Homo sapiens: one gene and its partners. The protein of the gene in region 1 purifies or fractionates together with the protein of each later gene. This does not show direct contact. Each region holds a gene or a part of one and is shown in the gene's direction. Other genes may lie near its edges. The genes, in order: PPP2R2B, PPP2R1B, ECSIT, CDCA4, PPME1, IQGAP1 and PABIR1.

Region 1 (3,500 bases):
TCAGTCGGGGCTCAGTTGCAAGAAATGATTTGCTTGAAAAGAAAATAGCTTTGGTTATTTTATTATCTTGTTTCTATTAAGTGACCACACCTGTGTTGTGGGGTTTTGTCTGTCTTGGGTGTTTTTTTAGTTTGTTCCCTCTCAGGCATTAGTGTTCTTATTCTCTTTCTTTGTAGCCAGTTCACCCAGAACTCAAAGGAGGAAGAGTGATAGGTCTTTGTTCACATTTGCCAGAAAGACGGTCATGTGTGGGAAACTATTTAGTTGCCGATTCTCTGATCCACCAGAAAGAAATCATTTAATCATGTATTCTTACTCATTCAACAAATACTTACTGAGAAGTATTTATGTATCAGTAAGGTGACCATATCATTAATGTTCAAACTGGGACAGTTTTGCATGTAAAAGTGGACACTACCTGGTTCGCACTCTAAGACAAATATAAACCAAGATTTTCTCAGTCAGATGTCATTGGGTTCCCTATATATTAGTGGCTGAATTTGGACGATTAGAGTCTTGGGTGATGCTAAAGTTTCCCAAAATGCCCTTAAGGATTAAGGACAAAGCCAGGAAGGGGTATAGCTTCCAAAGCCATGAGATGAAAAGACATAAAAGATAAATTTAGATTAAAGTTGAACTAGACATTTCTAAAATTTTCCCACAACTCCCTTTTTTAAATAGATTTCATGTTTAAAAAAAAAATAGAACAATGTCTCTGGAAGGTAATGACTCCACAATGGAAGCCAAGTTCCCCTGAGATGAGGCTACCTGGAGGGGCTTAGAAAAATGTTTAGAATTTATAAAGAATGAAATTTCCCACCAGGGCTAAGTGATGGTGATATCTTTTGAAAGAGGAGGAACAGAATGGAACAAGAACAGTGTGTGATTCGTTATTAGCCTCTTCTTTCTCTAACTTGGAGTTTCTTCAATGTGGCTATTATTTTGTGTGTGATAATAAATGATATTAGCATGCACACTCTTTTCCTATGGAAGATCTTTGGTTCTGAAGTGATTTGTTTCTCTTGCATCCCAGGTGCCTGTCCTGAGACCCATGGACCTGATGGTGGAGGCCACCCCACGAAGAGTATTTGCCAACGCACACACATATCACATCAACTCCATATCTGTCAACAGCGACTATGAAACCTACATGTCCGCTGATGACCTGAGGATTAACCTATGGAACTTTGAAATAACCAATCAAAGTTTTAGTATCCTTTCTTTGTGATCAAGAATCAACTGGCCTGAATTAAGAGTATTCAGGTGCGAGTGGGCTGGGAGAAAATATGGAATAGAAATGCAACACCTAGCATTTGCGGAGAACTTGCCCCTTTTAAAATACACTGGCACCTATGAGACTCTTTAATCATAACAATAAAGTTAGGGAAATATTGTTATTACAAGTGGGAGGCCAGGGCTAGCTCTGGATTGGGACTCTGAATCAATTCCTTCATACAGAGGCATTTATATGTCACGAATTAAAATTAGAGGTGATTTTATCAACAATAGGATAAGACCCTAGAGTTCAGGTTCTTTCTCTGTTAAAGGATTCATAAATCTGTATGGACAGCATGGACCACAGACATACTGGTTTCCATTGTCTCATAATAGTGAAAATAATAGTGACTGACATTTATTGAGTTCCAAGCACTTGCAATGGGAACTTTATAGTATTACATTTTTTACCTCATTGAAGTATATTATGCATATAGAAAAGTACATATTATAATTGTACAGTTTGATGAAATGTATAGTATACATATTATAATTGTACAGTTTGATAAAATGTACAGTATACATATTATAATTATACAGTTTGATGAAATTTCAGAGGTTGAACTCACCTATAACCAGCATTGACATCCAGAAACAGAACTTTGCTAACAATTCTCAAGCCCCCATCATGCCTCTTTATATTAATAATTTCTACCCCCAAGGACATATTTGATAAAACAACCCCATAATGTAAGTATCATTATCTCCTGTTTAATTAAAATATAGAAAAGTCGGCTGGCCGCAGTGGCTTATGCTTATAATCCCAGCACTTTGGGAGGCCTAGGTAGGTGGATTGCTTCAGGTCAGAGGTTTAAGACCAGCTTAGCCAACGTGGCAAGGCCCCAACTTTACTAAAAATACAAAAAAGAAATTAGCCAGGCATGGTGGCGGGCGCCTGTAGTCCCAGTTACTTGGGAGGCTGAGGCAGGAGAATCGCTTGAACTGAGGAGGCAGAGGTTGCAGTAAGCCGAGATCGTACCACTGCACTCCAGTCTGGGTGACAGAGCCAGACTCCATCTCAAAAAAATAATAAAAATAAAAAATATATAGAAAGGTAAAAAAAAAAAATGCTGAATAGCTGGGCCAGTATTTTCACCCCCACTATGTTGACCCTCTATTTCATAGTAAAAATTGGTCATTTATTGAATACCTATCATGTGCTCCATTTCTCACAAACCTAAGGCATGAGATTTATGAGGAATGGCACTGAACAACTCAGGTAACTGAACAATTGACCTAGGTATCAATATGGAGTTTTCTCTTCCACTTACCAGCCTCCCCTACTCTAACTCCATCTATCCATGAGCCCTGCCTCTAAAATATATGTCAAATCAACGCATATATCCCTATCTACCTACCTACACTAGCATAAGCCACTGTTGTCTCTCACCACTGTGACTGCAATAATCTCATCTGGTCTCCATTCATTCTTGCTCTTTTATACAGTACGAACCCTTCAACATGTAATTCAAATATCATTCCTTCCCTGATAAAAAACATTCCAGTAGCTTCCCACTAAACTCAGAATAAAATCCAAGTTATTTAACTTGGCCTATAAGATTCTGCGTGATCTGGAACCTGTCTCCATCTTTGTTATCCAGTCTTGTCACGCTTCCCTAATTCACTTCATTTCAGCCAACTAATCACTTTTCTGTTCCTAAGTAAACCTTATTCTTCCATTCTTTGCATTTGCTGTTCCCTCTTTCTAGAATATTTTGCCCACAGCATTCACATGGCTAGTTACATGTCACTTCAGGCCCCAGAGGTACTCTTTCCCATTAACTCTTAAGTAGCTACCAATAACACTATCCCTGTTATTGTCATGGTACTTACCATGATTTGAAATTTTTTTACTTATGTATTTTTGGTTTCCTCATGTTAGGATGTAAATTCTACAAGAGCAAGGGCCTTGTATGAACTATTGCTGTATTCCAGTACGTGGAACACTCTGACATACAGAAAATTATTGAACCTGTCAAGTTCGAAATAATAGTAGGTCATCAAAGTAGCGCTATCCAGTAGACAGTTCATAAAATCTAACCTGGAAATTTAATTTTAAGAGTTATAGTAAAGCTCTGAAGGTTCGTTTATAGAATAGACCCCATAATGGCTCAAACAAATAAAAGATTATTTTCGTATGAAGTCTAATATTGATGATCCCCATCAGCAGGCAGCCTCCTCCAATCAGTAATTCAGAAACTCGGGCCTCTTTCATTTGCAGCTCC
Region 2 (3,500 bases), on another chromosome or scaffold:
ATTGCTTGAACCCAGGAGGCGGAGGTTGTAGTGAGCTGACATTGCACCACTGTACTCCAGCCTGGGCGACAGAGAGAGATTCCGTCTCGACAACAACAACAACAACAACAACAAACTGGAAAATAAAAGTTAATTAAAACTGAAGGAAAATTCTCAACCTGAAATGAAAAAGAAATCTTGGCTGACGTAATCTAAGTGTATGCCAAAATTTGTTCATTATGATCTTTTAGTACAAAGCAATTTTGGGCCAGGTGCGGTGGCTCATGCCTGTAATCCCAGCACTTTGGGAGGCTGAGGCGGACGGATCATCTGAGTCAGGAGTTAAGAGACCAGCCTGGCCAACATGGTGAAACCCTGTCTCTACTAAAAATACAAAATTAGCTGGGCATGTGCTGCATATCTGTAATCCCAGCTACTTGAGAGGCTGAGGCAGGAGAATCACTTGAACCCGGGAGGTGGAGGTTGCAGTGAGCTGAGATTGTGCCACTGTACTCCAGCCTGGGCAATAGAGTGAGACTCCATCTCAAAAAAAAAAAGCTATTTTGTCTTATTCAATCACTATTTTCAAAGCACTGACACATTATATTACCTCTCTTTTTTTAAAATATAGAATCACCAGTCAGGAACTTCTTAGAGTTCAAAGAAGCAAGACTGTAAATGTGTAGACCCCAGAAGGGAGGCACTAGGAAAGTGTGTCACAGCATTCTCCATGTGGTGTGGAAGCCCCGGGGTTAGAGGACTGTGTAAATCTGCTCCCGGAGCCCATCCCCAGCCTGCACTGAAGTGGCCACCTGTTGACAGTCGGGAGGAACAGGGCTGGGAGAGCAAGCCATGCCTGGGCCATATGCCCTGTAGTCCTGGGCCTGCTTTATTCTCCCTCCAGGGCTTTCTCCTGTTGTCTCGAAAATACTCTCTTTAACTGGGGATATCTCTATGTCTTGAGGTCAGTTGCTTTATCCTTAAGGATTTGTCATAATAGTAACCAAAAAGGGAAGACGATTGAGAATTAGTAATATTACTGACAGGTGTTTTCCTGGGTAATTCATTTTTACAGGTAATCCAGATTTGCTTGGCAGACCATACACAGTGCATTCTTCCTGCTCTTTTGCAGTGTTGTGGCTGACTTCTGGCCACCCTGTTCTCTTTTACCTAGCAGGGCCTATGCCAGCTCACGTATGCTTTTTTTTTGTTTATGATTTCCGTCCAATAAATAGATTTATGGTTTGTTTGTAATTCCTGTGGTGTTTCTATCTCTTATTTGTTTATTTGGAAACAAGTTTTTTTAGCCTTCAGGTAACCTTGGTGTAATGTAAATAGACCATCTTTATTTCTGAATTTTGGCAATGTATGTTAATGGAATCTTCTGTATCTGTAGGGTGTGGAATTCTTTGATGAAAAGCTGAATTCTTTATGTATGGCTTGGCTCGTGGACCATGGTGAGTAGATAAAAACAGATTATTGAAAGCCCATATATCCATGATTTTCATACATTTCCTTTTAGAAAGGAATCTCAGTCTGACCAGATATTTTGCCTTAATATTGTAGGAATGAAGAAAGGCTCTAATTAAAGTTTAATCTTCTGAATATAAATTTGACGTTTCTACCAATTTTTTGTATCTTCGATTTTATTTTCTCCATTAAACAATTTATTTGCATTATTTTCTTACTCAATCTATTACATTATCTTCAGACCATCTCTTTTATATATCTACTTACTCCTCCCTTATCTGAAGATCCTCTTTTTGACCATCCTGTAATTGGTGTCTTCAGCAGCTATACACTAGGTTGTATGGAGATTGGAATCAGATGAAAGGCCTGGGTGGGAGAAATGGCTACTTGGCTTTTTGAGGTGACATAGAAGAGGAGATCTACAGTGAGACAGTAGAGGATTCTTAGGTGTGGGAAACACTAGCTTTGCCATAGGGAGAGAGAGGGCCTGGATTTCTGGTTTGGGTGAAAGGAAGGCTTACTGCTTGTACTCTCACTGCTGCTGCTACAGTGCTAGGAGAGGGTGAGCTCAGGGCAGGTCAGATAGGACAGCAGGAATGAGCAAGTGACTTCCTGGTGAGGCTTCAGGTAGAGGTATATGTGTGTATCCCCTTGTGTGCCAGGCAGCAGTGGGTGACAGATGTACCGTCTCTGCCAGATCCCAGGTCCAGACTTGACAGCTTCAGTGTTGTCTTAGACCTGTTTCGATGAGTGTGAGTGCCCCTATGGGGTCATGTGACATTGTCCTTGAGCTTTGTTTCCATGTTTTGGTGGATATAATAGATAACCTGAGTCAGTTCCACAGTATCTTTTATATACTTGATATATGTATTTAGTGTATCTCTTTGTTCATCTATGGGTGCTTATGCCTGGAAATTTGGGAGGAATGAGGATATTTGTGTCTGCTTATACGTGTGGGTGGTTTTGTTAAAGGCATGTTTGCATCATATGGAGGATCATATGGTTAAGAGTGTGAAGAGGAAGGATGTGAAAAAATATGTGAAAATGTATAAGGGCTTATATATGTGGGTATTTCCAGTGTTTTCAAACTGGATTGTAGACTTCTTTCTCTTTTTCTTCTCTAAAGTTATCTTATTGTGGCCTATTTATTTCTTTTTAAATAAAATTAAAATTTGGCAAATCATAGGAAAGAAATACCACTTTTAAAAAAAATGTTTATGTTATATCTGATAAATATTTGACGTTACTGGGAATGGTGCATCCTAGCAAATCATTCTGTGCTTTTTTAAATTTTATTTTACTTTAAGTTCTAGGATACATGCATAGAACATGCAAGTTTGTTATGTTACATAGATATACATGTGCCATGGTGGTTTGCCGCATCTATCAACCTGTCGTCTAGGTTTTAAGCCCCACATGCATTAGGTATTTGTTCTAATGCTCTCCCTCCCCTCGCCCCTCACCCCCTGATAGGCCTCAGTGTGTGATGTTCCCTTCCCTGTATTCATGTGTTCTGATTGTTCAACTCCCACTTATTAGTGAGAACATGTACTGTTTGGTTTTCTGTTCCCGCGTTAATTTGCTGAGAATGATGGCTTCTAGCTTCATCCATGTCCCTGCAAAGGACATGAACTCATTCCTTTTTTATGGCCGCATAGTATTCCGTGGTGTATATGTGCCACATTTTCTTTATCCAGTCTGTCATTGATGGGCATTTGGGTTGGCCTCAAGTCATTCTATGCTTTCTTTAAAAGTTGGCATTTTAGATTAAGATGGTGTTTTATTTTGAGGAATTTTTAAAGTTCTAATATTCCACAAAGAATTAAATTCCTGGCACCCTTTCTCTGTAAGATTGTCTTCTCTATGCAACTTGATTACTCCTTCCTCTTTTCGGATTTTCTCTTTCAGTTTGGGAGCAGGAGAAACCCTTGTTTATTTCACTGCAGCAGCATGCTGAAGTGGGGACTGCAAGAGTTCCATGAACCAATGAAATAACAGCTCTGAAATTGTTTTGTACTTAATCACAGGAGCTTTTTTGCTTTTGCATTTCA
Region 3 (3,353 bases), on another chromosome or scaffold:
GAGCTCAAGCGATCCACCCACCTTAGCCTCCCAAAGTACTGGGATTGCAAGCATGAGCCACCATGCCTGGCCCCCTCAGACCTTTGTTTGTTTGTTTTTTTTTTGAGATGGAGTCTCGCTCTGTCGCCAGGCTGGAGTGCTGTGGCGCCATCTCAGCTCACTGCAACTCTGACTCCCGGGTTCAAGCGATTCTCCTGCCTCAGCCTCCCAAGTAGCTGGGATTACAGGCATGCACCACCAGGCCCAGCTAATTTTTGTATTTTTAGTAGAAACGGGGTTTTACCATGTTGGCCAGGCTGGTCTTGATCTCCTGACCTCATGATCTGCCCACCTCGGCCTCCCAAAGTGCTGGGATTACACGCGTGAGCCACTGTGCCCGGCCAAGACCTTTTTTATAAGGGGACTAATCTCATTCATGAAGGCAGAGCCCTTATGATCTAAGTGCCTCTCCTCTCAAAGGCCTGACCTCTTAATCCTATTGCATTGTAGATAGATTGCAACATATGAATTTCAGGGGGCCATAAACATTCAGACCATAGCACCCTCCCATCCTTCTCCCAACACTTGCTACATTCTAGGCATCTTCCTTATTTTCTGTGCCAATTCTCACCACAGGGCTTTGCGTTCTCTGTTCCTTCTGCCAGGAACACTGTTCCCCATGGACTTCATGTTATTCCGGTCTCAGCTCCACTGTTCCTAATCAGGATGCCCTTCCTGACCTCCCTGGCCAAGGCACCACCCCTTCACCGTGCTTGGCTTGGTTCCTCATTCACCATGACTCAGTCTCCCTCCTGTCTCCCAAGGCTGAGCACAGGATTTGGTGCAAAGCTGACACTTGGCAGTGGTTTGTTGAATGACTGAGTGGAGTAACACCCTCAACTCAGTGTCCTGGGAGCCCCCACTCATGCCAGATCACACAAGGGATCCAAAGAGAGCCCCTCACAGCACTTGTCATGTGGTCCTGGACAGATAACAGTTTCCTTAAGAGCCAGTGGTTCTGAGATGGAGAAGCCCGGGGTGCTGTGGGAGCCGAGTGGGCAGGTGGGGCTTCCTGGGGGAGGTAAGGAGAGCAGAGGACGCTGGGCAGAGGGAGCAGTGTGTACCAGGAAATGCGGTGCAGTGAGTGGGGGCACCTGATTAAAGAGCTTGATCTCAAACCTCTTGGTTGGTGGGGAGAGCTATGCCGGGGGTGGGGGGGCAGAGATTTAAGAAGAAGGAATCGGGTTGGAATCATGTTTCTGGAAGAATCTGCAATTGGAAACGTGTCTCCTGGCAGCCGTGTGGATGCTGTTGGATGGGGAGAGGGGCTAGGGGACCAGGGTCGTGGGTCCAGGTGAGAGATGGCTTGAGACCAGCAGCAGAATGTGGGGGGGAGGGTTGTTTTTAGTTCATTTCTTCATTTTGCAAAGCAATGCACTAAAAAGCCAAACAGCATGTAAAAGCACACAGTGACGAGTCCTCTGCTTCTACCCAGGCCCCGTGCGCTGCCCCTGACGCCGCCCGTCTCCCTCCCCAGAGGTGACTATTTCCATGTCTCCTTCCAGAGAGGTTCTATACATTTGCAAGCAGATCTCTCTCTCTCTCTCTCTTTTTTTTTTTGGCATCTGTATCCTTTGTATTTAAATATCCTTCTCCCCCGTCTTATGGAGTAAAATACAGCCAGGCACAGTGGCTCATGCCTGTAATCCCAGCACTTTGGGAGGCTGAGGCAGATGGATTGCTTGAGCCCAGGAGTTCGAGACCAGCCTGGGCAACATGGCAAGACCCCATCTCTACCAAAAAAATACGAAAATTAGCTGGGAGTGGTGGTGCACACCTGTAGCCCCAGCTACTCAGGAGGCTGAGGCAGGAGGGTGGCTTGAACTCAGGAAGTCAAGTCTGTAGTGAGCCGTGATCATACCACTGCACACCAGACTGGGTGACAGAGCAAGATCCTGTCTGTTTAAAAAAAAGAAGTTCTTTAGCCAGGCATGGTGGCTTACGCCTGTAATCCCAGCACTTTGGAAGGCCGAGGCAGGCAGATCACCAGAGGTTGGGAGTTCGAGACCAGCCTGACCAACATGGAGAAACCTCGTCTCTACTAAAAATACAAAAAGAATTATCCAGGCATGGTGGTGCATGCCTGTAATCCTAGCTACTTGCGAGGGTGAGGCAGGAGAATCACTTGAACCCAGGAGGTGGAGGTTGCAGTGAGCCGAGATCGCGCCATTGCACTCCAGCCTGGGCAACAAGAGCGAAACTCCATCTCAAAAAAAAAAAAGTTTCTTTAGTAGCAGGGCATTATATACATGTACCTTGCCTTTTACAAATTTCATTTAATACAACTAGAAGTCACTGATCCATCTCAAATTTTTTTGTTGTTTTTTTGAGACAGAGCCTTGCTCTGTCGCCCATGCTGGAGTGCAGTGGCACAATCTCGGCTCACTACAACCTCCTCCTCCCAGGTTCAAGCAATTCTTGTGCCTCAGCCTCCCATGTAGCAGGGACTACAGGCGTGTGCCACCACGCCTGGCTAATTTTTGTATTTCTAGTAGAGACGGGGTTTCACCATGTTGGCCAGGCTGGTCTTGAACTCCTGGCCTCAAGTGATCCACCACCCTCGGCCTCCCAAAGTGCTGGGATTACAGGCATGAGCCACTGCGCCCGGCCTGCTCATCTCAATTTTTTTTAACTTGAAAGGATGAATGATATATGTTCTAATAGCTGTCCACTGTTTTGTTTCAAAAGCAAGTGCATTTTGTTAAAAAAAAAAAAACTTTGTCAGCGGGGCGCAGTGGCTTATGCCTGTAATCCCAATGCTTTGGGAGGCTGAGGCAGGTGGATCACCTGAGGTTGGGAGTTTGAGACCAGCCTGACCAACATGGAGAAACCCTGTCTCTACTAAAAATACAGACATTAGCCAGACGTGGTGGTGCATGCCTGTAATCCCAGCTACTCGGGAGGCTGAGGCAGCAGAATCACTTGAACCCAGGAGGTGGAGGTTGCGGTGAGCTGAGATCAAGCCCCATTGCACTCCAGCCTAGGCAACAAGAGCGAAACTCTGTCCCAAAAAAAAAAAAAAAAAATTGTCTAGTGTTTTTGAATTATGTTCAAGGTATAAAATTTTAAAAGATAAAAAAGGTATTCCTTCCCACCCTGTCCTCCACAGAGGTGAAAGCTATCATTTGCTTCTAGTGTCTCCTTCCTGGGATATTCTGTATATGTGAAGTTATTTTTCTTTTTTTAATTCACAAGCACTGAGCACTTATTATTTGCCAGGGACTGTGCTACATATTTTACAACCACCCAAAGTTAGGTTCATGCCCATAATCCTAGTGCTTTGGGAGGCCAAGGCAGGCGGATCACCTGAGGCC
Region 4 (3,500 bases), on another chromosome or scaffold:
GTGGCTACCCTTCTGTGTTTTCACAACTTAGATTAGCTTTGCCTGTCCTGAAGGTTCAGATCAATAGAATCCTACGGTACATATTTTTGTGTGTGTCTTGCTGCTTTTATTCAGCATAATGTTTTGAAATTTATCCGTGTTGCATAAATCATTGAGGTATGTTGCTGAGTTGCATTCCTTTGTCAGAATACACCAGATCGTATACATTCAACTTGTTTTAAGTGTTTTTTTTGTGTGTGTGTGTTTTTTTTTTGAGACGGAGTCTCGCTCTGTTGTTCAGGCTGTAGTGCAGTGGTGCAATCTCTGCTCACTGCAACCTCCGCCTTCCAGGTTCAAGCAATTCTCCTGCCTCAGCCTCCCGAGTAGCTGGGACTACAGGCACGTGCCACCACACCTGACTAATCTTTTGTATTTTTAGTAGAGATGGGGTTTCATCGTGTTGGCCAGGATGGTCTCAATCTCCTGACCTGGTGATCCGCCTGCCTCAGCCTCCCAAAGTGCTGGGATTACAGGCATGAGCCACTGTGCCCGGGCTGTTTAAGTCCTAAAAGAATGCTTGTGGCTGGGTGTGATGGCTCACTCCTGTAATCCTAGCACTTTGGGAGGCCGAGGTGGGCAAATCACTTGATGTCAGGAGTTCGAGACCAGCCTGGCCAACATGGCGAAACCCCGGCTCTATTAAAAATACAAAAAACTAGCTGGGCGTGGTGGTGCACGCCTATAATCCCAGCTACTCGGGAAGTTGAGGGAAGATGAGGCAGGAGAATCGCTTGAACCTAGGAGGTGGAGGTTGCAGTGAGCCGAGATTGCACCACTGCACTCCAGCCTGGGCGACAGTGAGACTCCATCTAAAAAAAAAAAGAATGCTTACAACTGAGAGTGATGAAACTAGGCCAAGGACCGCCCCCCACCTCCCCAGGAGCCTCTCTGGAGGCTCACACCTGCTGGTCCTGTCCTTGAATAGACAGAAAAAAGGTTCCCCCTGTTCTCTGAATTTCTTTTCGGTGTGATAGATCTCATTGCCTGTGCATTTAACACTCCTAAATTTTATAAAACGATTATTTCTTTGGCATTTATCCAAGAGAAATGAAAAACCAATGTTCATGCAAAAACATGTTCTAGAATGTCCATAGCAGCTTTATGTGTAATAACTCCAAACTGGAAACAAGGAAAAAGTTCCCTTCAGCTGGGGTGTGGTGACACTCTGCTCCGTCTGTGCCTCCAGATCCTACTCTGTTGGGAACTGTTGACACACAAGAGTTTGCAAGGATCTCAAGAGAATTATGCTGAAGGAGAAAAGCCAACCTCAGAAGGGTGCTTGCTGTGGGATCCCATTTATGCCACATTGTTGGGCTGACCCAGAGCTGAAGGGTGGCATGGCCAGAAAAGGACCTACACAGGGAGGCCAGGGTGTCTGGTCCTGGCAGGAGAGCAGCCGTGGAACAGGGTAGGAACACAGACGTGGAGCTCAGTGGAGGAGGGAAGGAACGCTTAGCTGTGGGGCTTAGAGACTTGGCAAAACAAGAGGAAGCTTTACCAGCAAGTGTGCAGAAATAGTGCGGGAGAAAGTTGGTGGAGCGTTCCACCTTCTTAGGATGCAGTTTAATAATGTTTATCAAGCCTCTTAAAAATGTACCTGCACATCACCCTAGTAAGTAAAGAGCCGAGGCTAAGGAAGCCAAATGCTAGAAATACCAAAACACCTAAAGTTAGAAACTGGTATCATTTGTGATTGGGAAAATTGTCAGTAGTGTGAAACTTCCCTCCCTTGTGCAGAGAGGAAAGTGCTGGGAGAAACGACTGGAAAGGAGGAACCCAGGTGGTGACTGTGTTTTTCTGAGTGGATGGGATCCTGGGAGAAAATTCGTTTTATGGTTTTTGATGCTCTTCCAGATTGTCTATGGTGAGCTGTGGAAATAAGCAACCAGGTGAGAACAGGCAGAGGCTGTTTATCCAGAGCTTCCCCTAGCAAGGGTGCGGCCCTCCTCTCTCGTGATTGGCAGAAACTCATAGGCAGGTGAGGGAACAGGAGAGCTTTACAGTGGAATCCAGGGAAGCTCAGGGATGGCTGATGGAGGCTGCTGACTTGGGGGACTGGGGTGGCCAGTTAGAAGTGGGGCTCCTGGCCTGGCACGGTGGCTGACGCCTGTAGTCCCAGCACTTTGGGAGGCCAAGGTGAGTGGATCACCCGAGGTCAGGAGTTTTGAGACCAGCCTGACCAACATGGTAAGTCTCTACTGAAAATATAAAAATTAGCCAGGCCTGGTGGTACACCCTTGTAATCCCAGCTACTCGGGAGGCTGAGGCAGGAGAATCCCTTGAACCTGGGAGGCGGAGGTTGCGGTGAGCTGAGATTGCGCCACTGCACTCCAGCCTGGGCGACACAACAACAACAACAAAGAAGTGGGGCTCCTGTGAGATGGCCTAGAACATGTTTGGCTTTCTCTGGTTGGTCCTAAATTGGAAGCAGGGACAAAAACTGGAGAGGTTGTCGGTTACTAATCATGTCCTGGCCATTTTGGGCTGCTTGCTATGGAAATGATTGTTTAGCTTCCTGGATTGTTCCTAGAGAAAGCAGCCAGGCTTCCTGCAGGTCTGACTAGGGCAACCTGGCTTCCTGGCCCGTTACTGAAGGTAAAGGGCTGGTTTCCGACTGATGGCGGCAGATAATGGCTGAGAGTTCTGTTTCTGTATGTGGTTCCGCCATTGTTTGTTGGTATATTCCCTCGCTCAGAGCAGATGTTATTAGGGTGATTTCTGACGGTCACGTATTGCTAGTGCTGCCCTTAGGACCGCTGACAGCACCAGGCCAAGCACTGAATTCATCCTCTTAAGATCCCCAGTGGGAGGCTTCTAGTATCCATATCTGGCTTTCAGAAAAGGGCGGGAGGGTCTGTCGTTGGGTTTGGACTCAGGACCTGGCATTTCTAAGGACTCAGAGGAAAGGAAAGTGGGACCCAGAGGGTCCTAGGAGCTTGGGACAGCTTCTTGAACTGGTTCCCAGTGTGGTTGTGGGTCTTCTTGGCCTGTCCCATTGGTATTCTTGTTCCTTCTGTGAGTTGCCCTGATTGCCCTGCTCAGTCGTGCTGACCTCCTGTAGGCCCCACATTATGGGGGTTGTGCTGCTGGGTTTCCAGAGTCAGGGGAGGCAGCCAGGGGTTCTTCTGTCTATAAACTTGGGCTTAATGCATGCTGTTCAAGAGGATTTGGTTTGGGTCCTAAATTAATCCATTGCTATGCAGGCTTGGGATTGAGATAGGTTGAAAGAGAAACTAAAAACCTAAAAGGTATATTGACTTCCCACAGAGGAACCCGTGGGACTTAATCTTTTCCCCAACGCAGGGTGTCCTTTGTAGTTTGACATAGCCTTATGTTAATTCTCGATATACTTAGCAATTTTAAGCCAGTGATTTAAACAATGGATTGGGATGGAAAAGCTCTGAAAAGTTAAATTTGTGGCTGACACAAAGAACTCGAATATTTACCAAAAGTAATAGAAA
Region 5 (3,500 bases), on another chromosome or scaffold:
CTCCAATTATGCTGATTGGACATAGCATGGGTGGTGCTATTGCAGTCCACACAGCATCATCCAACCTGGTACCAAGCCTCTTGGGTCTGTGCATGATTGATGTTGTAGAAGGTGAGTTTTCTTAGCACTGACCAAATCAGGATTTCACTTATAAGAGACATCCTTGGTAGATTATTACCTTGTCTTAGTTTATTGTTGATTTCATTCATCTTGAAATATGTCCCTCTGTCTTTATATCTTTTTTAAGTTTATACAAGATAACCATTTTTCCATGTCATCAAAAACTCTTCATTAACATCTTTTTATGGCTGCATAATATTTCAATCCTATGTATGTCCCATAATTGTATTTAATCATATAAAAAGAAGCTGCCATGTCTTTTCTGACCCAGCTTCAGAAGTCACACTGCTGCTTGTGAATACAAGTCATCCTCTTCAGTGTGAGGGCATGACATAAAGAAGTGAATACCCCAGAGGCAAAAATTATTGAGGGCCATCTTTATTTCTCTGCGAGCATCACTAAATTCTGCTGTCATCAAGAGCAGATATATAGTAGTTGACTCAGTAAGTGTAAATGCTCAGAATAAGTTAAATATGTGGTTACAGTTTTTGTTTAACATCCAGGTACAGCTATGGATGCACTTAATAGCATGCAGAATTTCTTACGGGGTCGTCCTAAAACCTTCAAGTCTCTGGAGAATGCTATTGAATGGAGGTAACCAACAAATCTTTGTCGCCTTTATTTAATTAATTTGTTTGTTTGTTTGCTTGCTTATTTATTTATTTAGGAGACAAGGCCTCACTCTGTCACCCAGGCTGGAGTGCAGTGGCATGATCCTAGCTCACTGCAACCTTGAACTCCTAGGTTCAAGCAATCCTCCCACCTCAGCCTCCCAAGTTGCTAAGACTACAGGTACACACCACCAAGCCTGGCTAATTTTTAAATTTTTTGTAGAAACGAGGTCTTGCTATGTTGCCCAGGCTGGCTTCAAGTAATCCTCCTGCTTTAGCCTGGCCTCAAGTAATCAAGTAATCAAATTCCTGGCCTCAAGTAATCCTCCCACTTTAGCCTCCCAAAGTGTTGGGGTTGTGGCGTGAGCCACAGTGCCCAGCCACTGTTGCCTTTATTCTAAATGTTAGATTGTAGCTTTTCTTCTTTTTTAGGTCAAGCACCAAGTTCAAGGAATAGAATTTCAGTTGCCACGCCTTATTGTAATAGCATATGAGGAAACATTATATAAACAGCAGAATTTTTTGAACATTTAAAAATATTTTAGATTTGGCTCAGTTGTCTGAAACCCATTGTTTTCCCAATACACTATAGTACCTCCTGGAATCTTAGTAATTATTGATCATCTGCTGTCTAGCTGTTTCTGCCTCTGAGGTAAGAGGTTAGACTAGGTGGTTTCTAAGGCATCATCCACCTCTGATGCTTCATGGTTTTAGATTTACTTTCTGTGTTTCAGATAAAATGGTGGAGAAATGGAAGATGGCTATAGGTTCCATTCCCTCAAATTTATTTGGATTTTGGGTAAATAAACTCAATGGGTAAATAGTTTTTATAAAAATCAGTGACAGAATTCCATTTAAGCAAAGGAATGAATTTATTCATTAATTCAGTTAATCATTTGATAAAGTATTTATTAAACACTTATTTTGTGCTAATGAGTGAAGATTCAGAGATGAATAAAACACTGTCCCTTCCCACAAGGAGATCAGTCTTTGGATAAATGTCTTCATCATCCTATCTTCCTTCCTATTCTTCTAACTCCATCTCCAGTCTCTTCTTCAGAACATTTTCTCTTAAGTTCTCCAAACCACCCAGATGACGCTTTCAGCAAAATTACAAGAGACCTTTAAGTCTCTATTATATTGCACTGTATACCCTTAAGTTTTCCAATACTCCCTTGAGGGATATGGCTCATATTGTTAATTTTCATTAATGTCTGTCTTAATGCCCTTCCTGCATCATAAGGGAAGAAGCTATTCTGTATTTCTTTTCTACTTTCATATAGCATATGGCATACTGCCCTAGCAGGCAGAATATATCTGTTAACTGAATCAGATATCAAGTGGAAATTTAGGACTTGGTAAATATATCCTAGGCGTTTTCCTAGGACAAATGGTCTTATGCAAGAATATGGCTTGTCAGAATGATGTTTGTGTTGGTGAAGTTTCTACCACTTCCTGTTCACTACTGTGATGCAGGATTCCTGTTCTCACAGAAATATCAAAGATCTATCTTGGGCAGATAGCATCAAGAATGTAGCTGCTGCCAGCTTGGCTTGTATCTCAGGTGCCCTGCCTGCTTCCGCAGTAACAACAAGTGAGAAAGTTATTCTAGACTTGGCTCAGTTGTCTAAAGCCCATCCAACTTTTATCCAAACTTTTTTTTTTTTTTTTTTTGAGACAGGGTGTCACTCTGTTGCCCAGGCTGTGGAGTCCAGTGGCATGATTACAGCTCTCACCGCAGCCTTGACCTTCTGGGCTCAAGCGATCCTCCTGCCTCAGCCACCCAAGTAGCTGGGACTACAGCTGTGCACCACGATGCCCAGCTAATTTTTGTTATTTGATTTTTTTTTTTTTTTTTTTTTTGTAGAGACAGGGTTTTATCATGTTGGCTCGACTGGTCTTGAACTCCTGAGCTCAAGCAGTCTGCCTGCCCGCCTCGGCCTCTCAGAGTCATGGGATAAATGGGTATGAGCCACTACGCCTGGCCCTTTTTCCGAACTCTAAAAATTTATTCAGTAAATTTTTTTTTCTAGTGCCTAAGATGTGTCAGTACCTGATCTAAGAACTGGGGGATGAATCAGGCTCAGTTCCTATCATCAAAAAACTGGGGATGCAAACAAGGAAACACATAAACATAACACAATGAAGGAAGCCAGGGGATATACCTAATGCAGCCTGGGTATCATGGTAGGCCTTCTCTTAAAGTAGTCTTGTTTCTTTTGCCAGATACAGGATAGAATAAGGGTTCTGTTTGTTAAATGTTAAGATGTTCTGGGTTTCATGAGAGTCATTGATCTTTCTGAACCTGAAAATTATTATACTATGAGGTATTTGGTAATTTTGTTTTTTATTCTGCTGGATATCTGAATCAAGTTTATGACTGATGGCCATTTTGGCTATTCTAGATTTTTTTTTATGTTGAAATATAAGGCCAATGATTTACTGCTTTTGCTCTCATAGGTTTCCTAATGAGAGGCAGCAGGGGTATAGTCATTAAGAACCTGGGCTTTAGGCCAGGTGTGGTGGTTCACACCTGTAATCCCAGTGCTTTGGGAGGCTGAGATAGGAATATTACTTGAGGCCAGGAGTTTGAGACCAGCCTGGGCAACATAGCGAGACCCTGTCTCTACAAAAAATATATATATTTTTTTAATTAGCTGGGTGTGGTAGCATGTGCCTATAGTCCCAGCTACTCAGGAGGCTGAGGTGGGAGGATCATTTGAGCCCAGAAGTTCAAGGTTATAGTGAGCTATGATCATGCCACTGCAC
Region 6 (3,500 bases), on another chromosome or scaffold:
ACCCGCCTCAGCCTCCCAAAGTGCTGGGATTACAGGCGTGAGCCACGACACCCGGCTTTTTTGCATTTTTAGTAGAGACGGGGGTTTCACCATGTTGGCCAGGCTGGTCTGGAACTCCTGGCCTCAAGTGATTGATCCACTCACCTTGGCTTCCCAAAGTGCTGGGATTACAAACATGAGCCACCATGCCCGGCCATCATAAGCTTTTAAAAAAGTTATGTAAGACAGGTCAGGCATGATGGCTCACACCTATAATCCCAGCACTTTGGGAGGCCGAGAAGGGCGGATCACTTGAAGCCAGGAGTTTGAGACCAGCCAGGCCAACATGGTGAAACCCTGTCTCTACTAAAAATTAAAAAAAATTAGCTGGACATGGTAGTACATGCCTGTAATTTCAGCTACTCAGGAGGCTGAGGTGGAAGAATCGCTTGAACCTGGGAGGCAGAGGTTGCAGTGAGCCAAGATTGCATGACTGCACTCCGGACTGGGTGACAGAGTGAAACTCTATCTCCAAAAAAAAAAAAAAAAAAAAAATTATTTAAGACATAAAACAACTTAATTGACAAAATTTTGATAGAGAAAAGAAGATAAATGTCTTCCCCTAATTTCACCTACCCCAGTCATTTTGTATCTTACATTCTTACTTCATATTAAAGGATAAGACTCTTTCCCTATGATAAGTAGTCATAATTTTTTTTTAATTTTATTTTTTGAAACAGAGTTTCCCTCTGTACCCCAGGCTGGAGTGCAGTGGCATGATCATGACTCACTGCAACCTCGACCTCCTAGGCTCAAGTGATTCTCCCACTTCAGCCTCTCAAGTAGCTAGGACGACAGGTGCATGCCACCACGTCTGGCAAATTATATTTTTATAAGAGATAGGGTATCTTTGTATTGCCCAGGCTGGTCTCAAAACTCCTGGGCTCAGGTGATCCTCCTGCCTCAGCCTCCCAAAGTGCTGGGATTACAGGTGTGAGCCGCTGCACCCAGCCATAAATATTATTTTTAACAGTAGCATATTAGATTTTTAGAAGATATACTATGATTTACCTCTTTTTCCCCTAGTATTTGACATTTAGGTTGTTTTCCAAGCGTTTATTATAAATAACATTGCAATTAATGTTTCAATATATATGTAGCTTTTATTGTATTTAAGACTTATTTTTATAATAGACTGCTGGAAGTTGGTTTGCCAATTCAGTGGACATTCTTATGGCTCAGATTCTTTGTTGGAACATAGGAATGGATTTGACTGGTGTACTGAAAACAGGATAAAGTGTAGTGGTTTTTAAATATTCAGTGGGAATCTGCCAGTGCAGTACACCTTCATGTGAGTTTGCACATGCTGCAAAACCTTTCCTCAATGCCCAGAGGTTCATCTTTGAAAGCTTTCTGATCTATTTATTGGTTTTTGTTTATAGGATGTGGTTTCCCACAGTAAAAAACTTACCAAAAAAAATAAGGAACAGTTGTCTGATATGATGATGATAAATAAACAGAAGGGAGGTCTCAAGGCTTTGAGCAAGGAGAAGAGAGAGAAGTTGGAAGCTTACCAGCACCTGTTTTATTTATTGCAAGTAAGTGGCTCCTGGAATCAGTGTTATAAAAATTTAGTGAATTTATTTTTCCACAAGAAAGCCTTACCATCGATCTCTCTGGAAGTATTTTTGACTTCCACTGAGGGGTGAGTGAGGGGCACTGTAACATGTTAATTTATTAATCTTTTTTCTCATATGTATTGTAGTCCTTCAATTTTAAATAATTGAATATATCTTGCCAGCCTTTATATTACCTACAAATGACTTATCCCTTGGTTTTATTTCAGACCAATCCCACCTATCTGGCCAAGCTCATTTTTCAGATGCCCCAGAACAAGTCCACCAAGTTCATGGACTCTGTAATCTTCACACTCTACAACTACGCGTCCAACCAGCGAGAGGAGTACCTGCTCCTGCGGCTCTTTAAGACAGCACTCCAAGAGGAAATCAAGTATGAACAGATTTCCTCAGGGCACAGGCCCCTTCCCACTATCAGAGGGGCTCCCAGTTTGAGATTCATGCCTTCCTGATCTTTTCTTGATCTCAATTAATTTATGAAAAATACTTACTCTAAAGAAGCATCTAATTTTTAAATAACTGATATAAAATCTTGCTGCTTCTAGGGAAGGGATAAATTAACTTTAGGAACATTCTGTATTAAGGTATAATTTCAAAAAGTAATCTGAACAGAAAGAATTCACATTTTTATCTAGTAGCGGACCCAATCATGACCACGATTGAGCGTGCAGCTGCAGGAACATTCTGTGAGTGCTGGGGAATGTTTCGAGAGAAACTGTTTCAGGGAGATAGGATCTTTAAGCAGGAAGGATCTTTTAAGTTGATGGGTTTTGTGACAAGTTTAAATTTTTATCTGATGTTTTATAGGTCGAAGGTAGATCAGATTCAAGAGATTGTGACAGGAAATCCTACGGTTATTAAAATGGTTGTAAGTTTCAACCGTGGTGCCCGTGGCCAGAATGCCCTGAGACAGATCTTGGCCCCAGTCGTGAAGGAAATTATGGATGACAAATCTCTCAACATCAAAACTGACCCTGTGGATATTTACAAATCTTGGGTTAATCAGATGGAGTCTCAGACAGGAGAGGCAAGGTATGTTAACCATAATGACACTTTTCTTTCATGTTGTTATAGTCTTTCCCTCTTTTTTCCCCTCTCTTTATTTATAAACTAATATTAGTTCAAATAGTTTTTCTTTTCTTTTCTTTTTTTAGACAGAGTTTCACTCTTGTCGTCCAGGCTGGAGTACAGTGGCATAATCTCAGCTCACTGCAGCCTCCACCTCCCAGGTCTAAGCAATTCTCATGCCCCAGCCTCCCGAGTAGCTGGGATTACAGTTGCACGCTACCACACCTGTCTGATTTTTGTATTTTTAGTAAGACTGGGTTTCACCATGTTGGCCAGACTGGTCTCGAACTCCTGACCTCAGGCAATCCATCTGCCTCGGCCTCCCAAAGTGCTGTGATTACAGCTGTGAGCCACCACACCCAGCCTCAAATAGTTTTTCTTTAGAAAACTGTGCTTTCTAAGTTGTTGACCTAGTAATAAATTCACTTATTTAGCAAATATTTATTGAGTATTAACTATGTGCCAGGCATTGTGTTAGAGATGTGTACAGTAATGCAATAATGAGTGAAACAGACATGCTTCCTGCCCTCTCTTCATAGTTCATTGGGTGGAAGAGACACCAACCAGGTACATAAAAATAAAAGCATAATTAAACATTGAAGAAAGTTTTATGAAGTTTTATGTACGGTTCTTTAATGGAGACTTTATAAGAGGGAGCTAACATAAGGTGGTTAGGGAAAGCCTATCCCGGAAGATAAAATTTCATTTAGCTGAGGCCCTAAAGCTAAGATGAACCCAGCCTTACTAAGAGCTAGGTGCAGAGTGTTTATGTCTGAACACTCTAAGCTGGAGGGTGTAGGACTTAAATGGACCCTG
Region 7 (3,038 bases), on another chromosome or scaffold:
CTTGCCTGAGTGATCTCCCAGCCTGTCTTCTGTCTCCTTTTGGTTCAGTCTTTATACTGCCTCTTGAGTAATCTTTCTGAAATTTAAACTTGATATTTTTCGCCCTCTTGCTTGAAAACTTCACTTGCTTCCCCATTTCCTACTCTTTAAGGAATGATTTCTTTAGCCTCAGATAGAAGGACCTTTATGATCTGGCCATATTCTGAAATAGCTTCAATCCTCTCCTCATCTCTGTTCCAGTATACATCTTTCCTTCTTATTCTGCAAACATTAGACCACTTGATATTCTTTAAATATGTCATGTACTTTTCTTGTGTCTGTTCTTTGGGATAATTCCTATCCTTTTCAGGGAGGCAAATTGCACGTGAGTTTAAGTATGAAGGCAATGTATACCTGCTGATTGTAAAATATTTAAACATTGTACATATCTGTGTGGTTTTAAAAGTCTGCTTTTAATTATGTAAAATTCATCTTCCCTTTCCACAGATAACTTCTGTTAACAACTTGATATCTATTGTACAAGATGTGTTACTGGCATTTCCATGTATATATGTATATAAATGCAGGAAACCAACATGTCATTGACACCTCTCTTCTTTACTTTTCCCCATATCTAATCATTCCTCAAGTCTTACTGATTTTTATCAGCTAGAATCTATCTCCTTATTTCTACCTCTATTGCCACTCTGATCCAGGCTACCAGCATTTCCCTCTTAGGCTTCTGAAGCAACTTCCTAACTCCCACTTGTGCTCCTCACACTCACTCTGGTCGGCTATCCATTCATTCTCCATACAGCAACTAGAGTCATTCTTTTAAAATTGCGGACCTGATCCTTCCATCTCCCAGCTGAACGCTTTTCATTTGCTTCCTGTTCTCATGAGTATGCCAAAATGTATTAATTCTGGGCTAGGAGGCCCTGAGGAATTTGGTCCTTCCCTCCTCCCCCCTCGTTTTCTGTGCTTCGCCCTCACTGGCTTGCCTTTCTTTTCCTTAAATACATCATGTTCTCTCCTATTTTAGATCCTTTTCCCCGAAGGTATGGAAACATTATTTCTGTAAGCTTATTCTTCTATATAGATGGGAAGTTTTTAAATCAGATAAGGTTCTAAGGGCATGTGGACAATTTACGTTATCATAGTATTGTTCATAACGTCCATCATTATTCTGTAGACTGTAAGGGCTTACTTAGCTCGTGTAAGAATTATCCTTCAAAAAGCATTTTTAAGGTATTAGTATTGCTAATCTATAAACTTTGTGCAAGAAGTCCTAAAGTCAATAGCAACATTTATTTAAAGTACAGTTTGTCATACTTAATAAACCTCTGGTATATTTTCCTTTATTATGCTTGTTAAAAACACAGTATAAATGGGAGAAATCATTAAAGATCATTAACTCCAAGGCTGCTGGATGTTAGGACCCTTAAGCATACTTAAAAGATTGATTGTAATCAAGAATAACTTGTATCAGATTGCCTTCCAGTGATTCACATTTATTAGTTCAACCAGTTACATACCTGTAGCAAGAGACCAGTTTATTTGGCAATAAAATTGGGGAAGGAATCAAGACTTAAATGAGGAAAGTGAGTCTGAGAACATTTTTTTTCAGGGTGTGTTTATAGATTAGTAGAACAATTTTGAAGATCTAACAGAGGTGGGAGTCAGGGGAATGGTTGCCAGACAATTGAACCAAGAAGATGATGATCATTTCTTGAGTAGCACCAGAGAACAGAAGAAAGAGTTGGCCTTGGAAAGGAGGTCTGGAAACTTATTTTTCTTCTGAAACAGGAGGGAGAGTGAAAAGGCTAGGCAAAGATATCCATAAATGTTGAATTGATTTGTTGTTGCAGGGGTTTAGGAGTATGGAGGTAGGTATATGAAAAGTAGAATTTGTTTCTGATTGTGCCTATTTTCCAATTATTGAGGAATCTAAGATACATGAGGATAGGGACAGGAGATCATTTGGAAGCTTGAGTGCAGTAAAGGTTTAATGTTGCCTCTGAGAATCTAAAGGAGTAAGTTAAGGACAAGTAGAAGGCTTATTAGGCTATGATGGATGCCAGGTTGCAGTTGGATGGCAGGCACAAGGAAGTGGGTTGGATTGACTAGGTTTGGGAATTGGTTAAGTGGGTACTAGGTAAAGCCCAGTGTGTGAAGTAGTTAAGGGTTCTGCTGAAAGTGTAGTTTGAATGATTGGCTGAGGCATTGAGGATAAGAGAAGGGAGCAGAGGCTTATGGACTAGACCACTTTTTTCAGGGCTTTACCTTATCAGCCATGACAAAGTATAGAGAATCTGGTCTCAATGTAGGTCTCTCACTCCAGCAGTTTTGCCCACATTTTTCATGGCTGTTAGAGAATCAGGGCTGAAGGCAAGCCTTGAGTGCCACTTACTTGGTAAAAAATTGTGTCAGATTGCTCACTGTAGCCAAGACAGAGTTCTTTGTGGCTTCTGTAACTTGCCATCCAAGTAAAAAAATTTTCTTAAAAGTTGAAATGACCTTTGTATAAAAAGTAATAAAATACTTGCTATGTGTCAGGGACTGTTCTAAGTGCTAAGCAAATATATCAATGCATTTAATCTATCACTATCATCTGAGGCAAGTGCTATCATTATCCTCATTTTATAAATGAGGAAATGGAGACACAGGTTGAGTTACTTGCCCAGGATTCCAGAGCTGGGAGGTAGGCAGCGAATTGTGGTGGTTAGGAATATAGACAGTGGAGCAGGGTGGCTGTGGTGAGGATTGAATGGGTTCGTACACAATGTGCTTACAAAGATGCTGGGCAATTAGCATCCTTGATGGATGAAACTCCTGCTTTCACACTCAGTTAACAGTACAATATCCTTCAAAGCAGGCTATCCTTTTATGAAGCGATTGTTTCTGATGTTAGCCTTTCTTATAGTGAACAGACATTTCCCTCTAACTTCCACCATTCAATTCAAGTCCACCTTTGGCAAATGCAAAACAAGCCTTATTCTTCTTTTTATAGGTGATAGCCCCCTTCTAGAAATCAGAAATACTGATCCTTCTCTAATGAC

Evidence for each region.
Region 2: the proteins of PPP2R2B (region 1) and PPP2R1B purify together in Homo sapiens (affinity purification with mass spectrometry; 4 studies listed by BioGRID and IntAct, with this or other methods). This does not show direct contact.
Region 3: the proteins of PPP2R2B (region 1) and ECSIT purify together in Homo sapiens (affinity purification with mass spectrometry; 3 studies listed by BioGRID and IntAct, with this or other methods). This does not show direct contact.
Region 4: the proteins of PPP2R2B (region 1) and CDCA4 purify together in Homo sapiens (affinity purification with mass spectrometry; 4 studies listed by BioGRID and IntAct, with this or other methods). This does not show direct contact.
Region 5: the proteins of PPP2R2B (region 1) and PPME1 purify together in Homo sapiens (affinity purification with mass spectrometry; 3 studies listed by BioGRID and IntAct, with this or other methods). This does not show direct contact.
Region 6: the proteins of PPP2R2B (region 1) and IQGAP1 purify together in Homo sapiens (co-immunoprecipitation; 3 studies listed by BioGRID and IntAct, with this or other methods). This does not show direct contact.
Region 7: the proteins of PPP2R2B (region 1) and PABIR1 purify together in Homo sapiens (affinity purification with mass spectrometry; 4 studies listed by BioGRID and IntAct, with this or other methods). This does not show direct contact.

What each region holds. Positions count from the first base shown.
Region 1 is NC_000005.10:146,648,258-146,651,757, reverse strand, and holds part of PPP2R2B (serine/threonine-protein phosphatase 2A 55 kDa regulatory subunit B beta isoform), read left to right. Parts: intron 1-1,033; coding exon 1,034-1,211; intron 1,212-3,500. UniProt on the Homo sapiens protein: The B regulatory subunit might modulate substrate selectivity and catalytic activity, and might also direct the localization of the catalytic enzyme to a particular subcellular compartment.
Region 2 is NC_000011.10:111,745,890-111,749,389, reverse strand, and holds part of PPP2R1B (serine/threonine-protein phosphatase 2A 65 kDa regulatory subunit A beta isoform), read left to right. Parts: intron 1-1,375; coding exon 1,376-1,436; intron 1,437-3,500. UniProt on the Homo sapiens protein: The PR65 subunit of protein phosphatase 2A serves as a scaffolding molecule to coordinate the assembly of the catalytic subunit and a variable regulatory B subunit.
Region 3 is NC_000019.10:11,508,782-11,512,134, reverse strand, and holds part of ECSIT (evolutionarily conserved signaling intermediate in Toll pathway, mitochondrial isoform 1 precursor), read left to right. Parts: intron 1-3,353.
Region 4 is NC_000014.9:105,014,584-105,018,083, reverse strand, and holds part of CDCA4 (cell division cycle-associated protein 4), read left to right. Parts: intron 1-3,500. UniProt on the Homo sapiens protein: May participate in the regulation of cell proliferation through the E2F/RB pathway. May be involved in molecular regulation of hematopoietic stem cells and progenitor cell lineage commitment and differentiation.
Region 5 is NC_000011.10:74,230,289-74,233,788, forward strand, and holds part of PPME1 (protein phosphatase methylesterase 1), read left to right. Parts: coding exon 1-111; intron 112-623; coding exon 624-714; intron 715-3,500. UniProt on the Homo sapiens protein: Demethylates proteins that have been reversibly carboxymethylated. Demethylates PPP2CB (in vitro) and PPP2CA. Binding to PPP2CA displaces the manganese ion and inactivates the enzyme.
Region 6 is NC_000015.10:90,475,242-90,478,741, forward strand, and holds part of IQGAP1 (ras GTPase-activating-like protein IQGAP1), read left to right. Parts: intron 1-1,421; coding exon 1,422-1,577; intron 1,578-1,825; coding exon 1,826-1,989; intron 1,990-2,423; coding exon 2,424-2,648; intron 2,649-3,500. UniProt on the Homo sapiens protein: Plays a crucial role in regulating the dynamics and assembly of the actin cytoskeleton.
Region 7 is NC_000009.12:68,783,029-68,786,066, forward strand, and holds the end of PABIR1 (PPP2R1A-PPP2R2A-interacting phosphatase regulator 1), read left to right. Parts: 3' UTR 1-2,538; downstream 2,539-3,038. UniProt on the Homo sapiens protein: Acts as an inhibitor of serine/threonine-protein phosphatase 2A (PP2A) activity. Inhibits PP2A activity by blocking the substrate binding site on PPP2R2A and the active site of PPP2CA.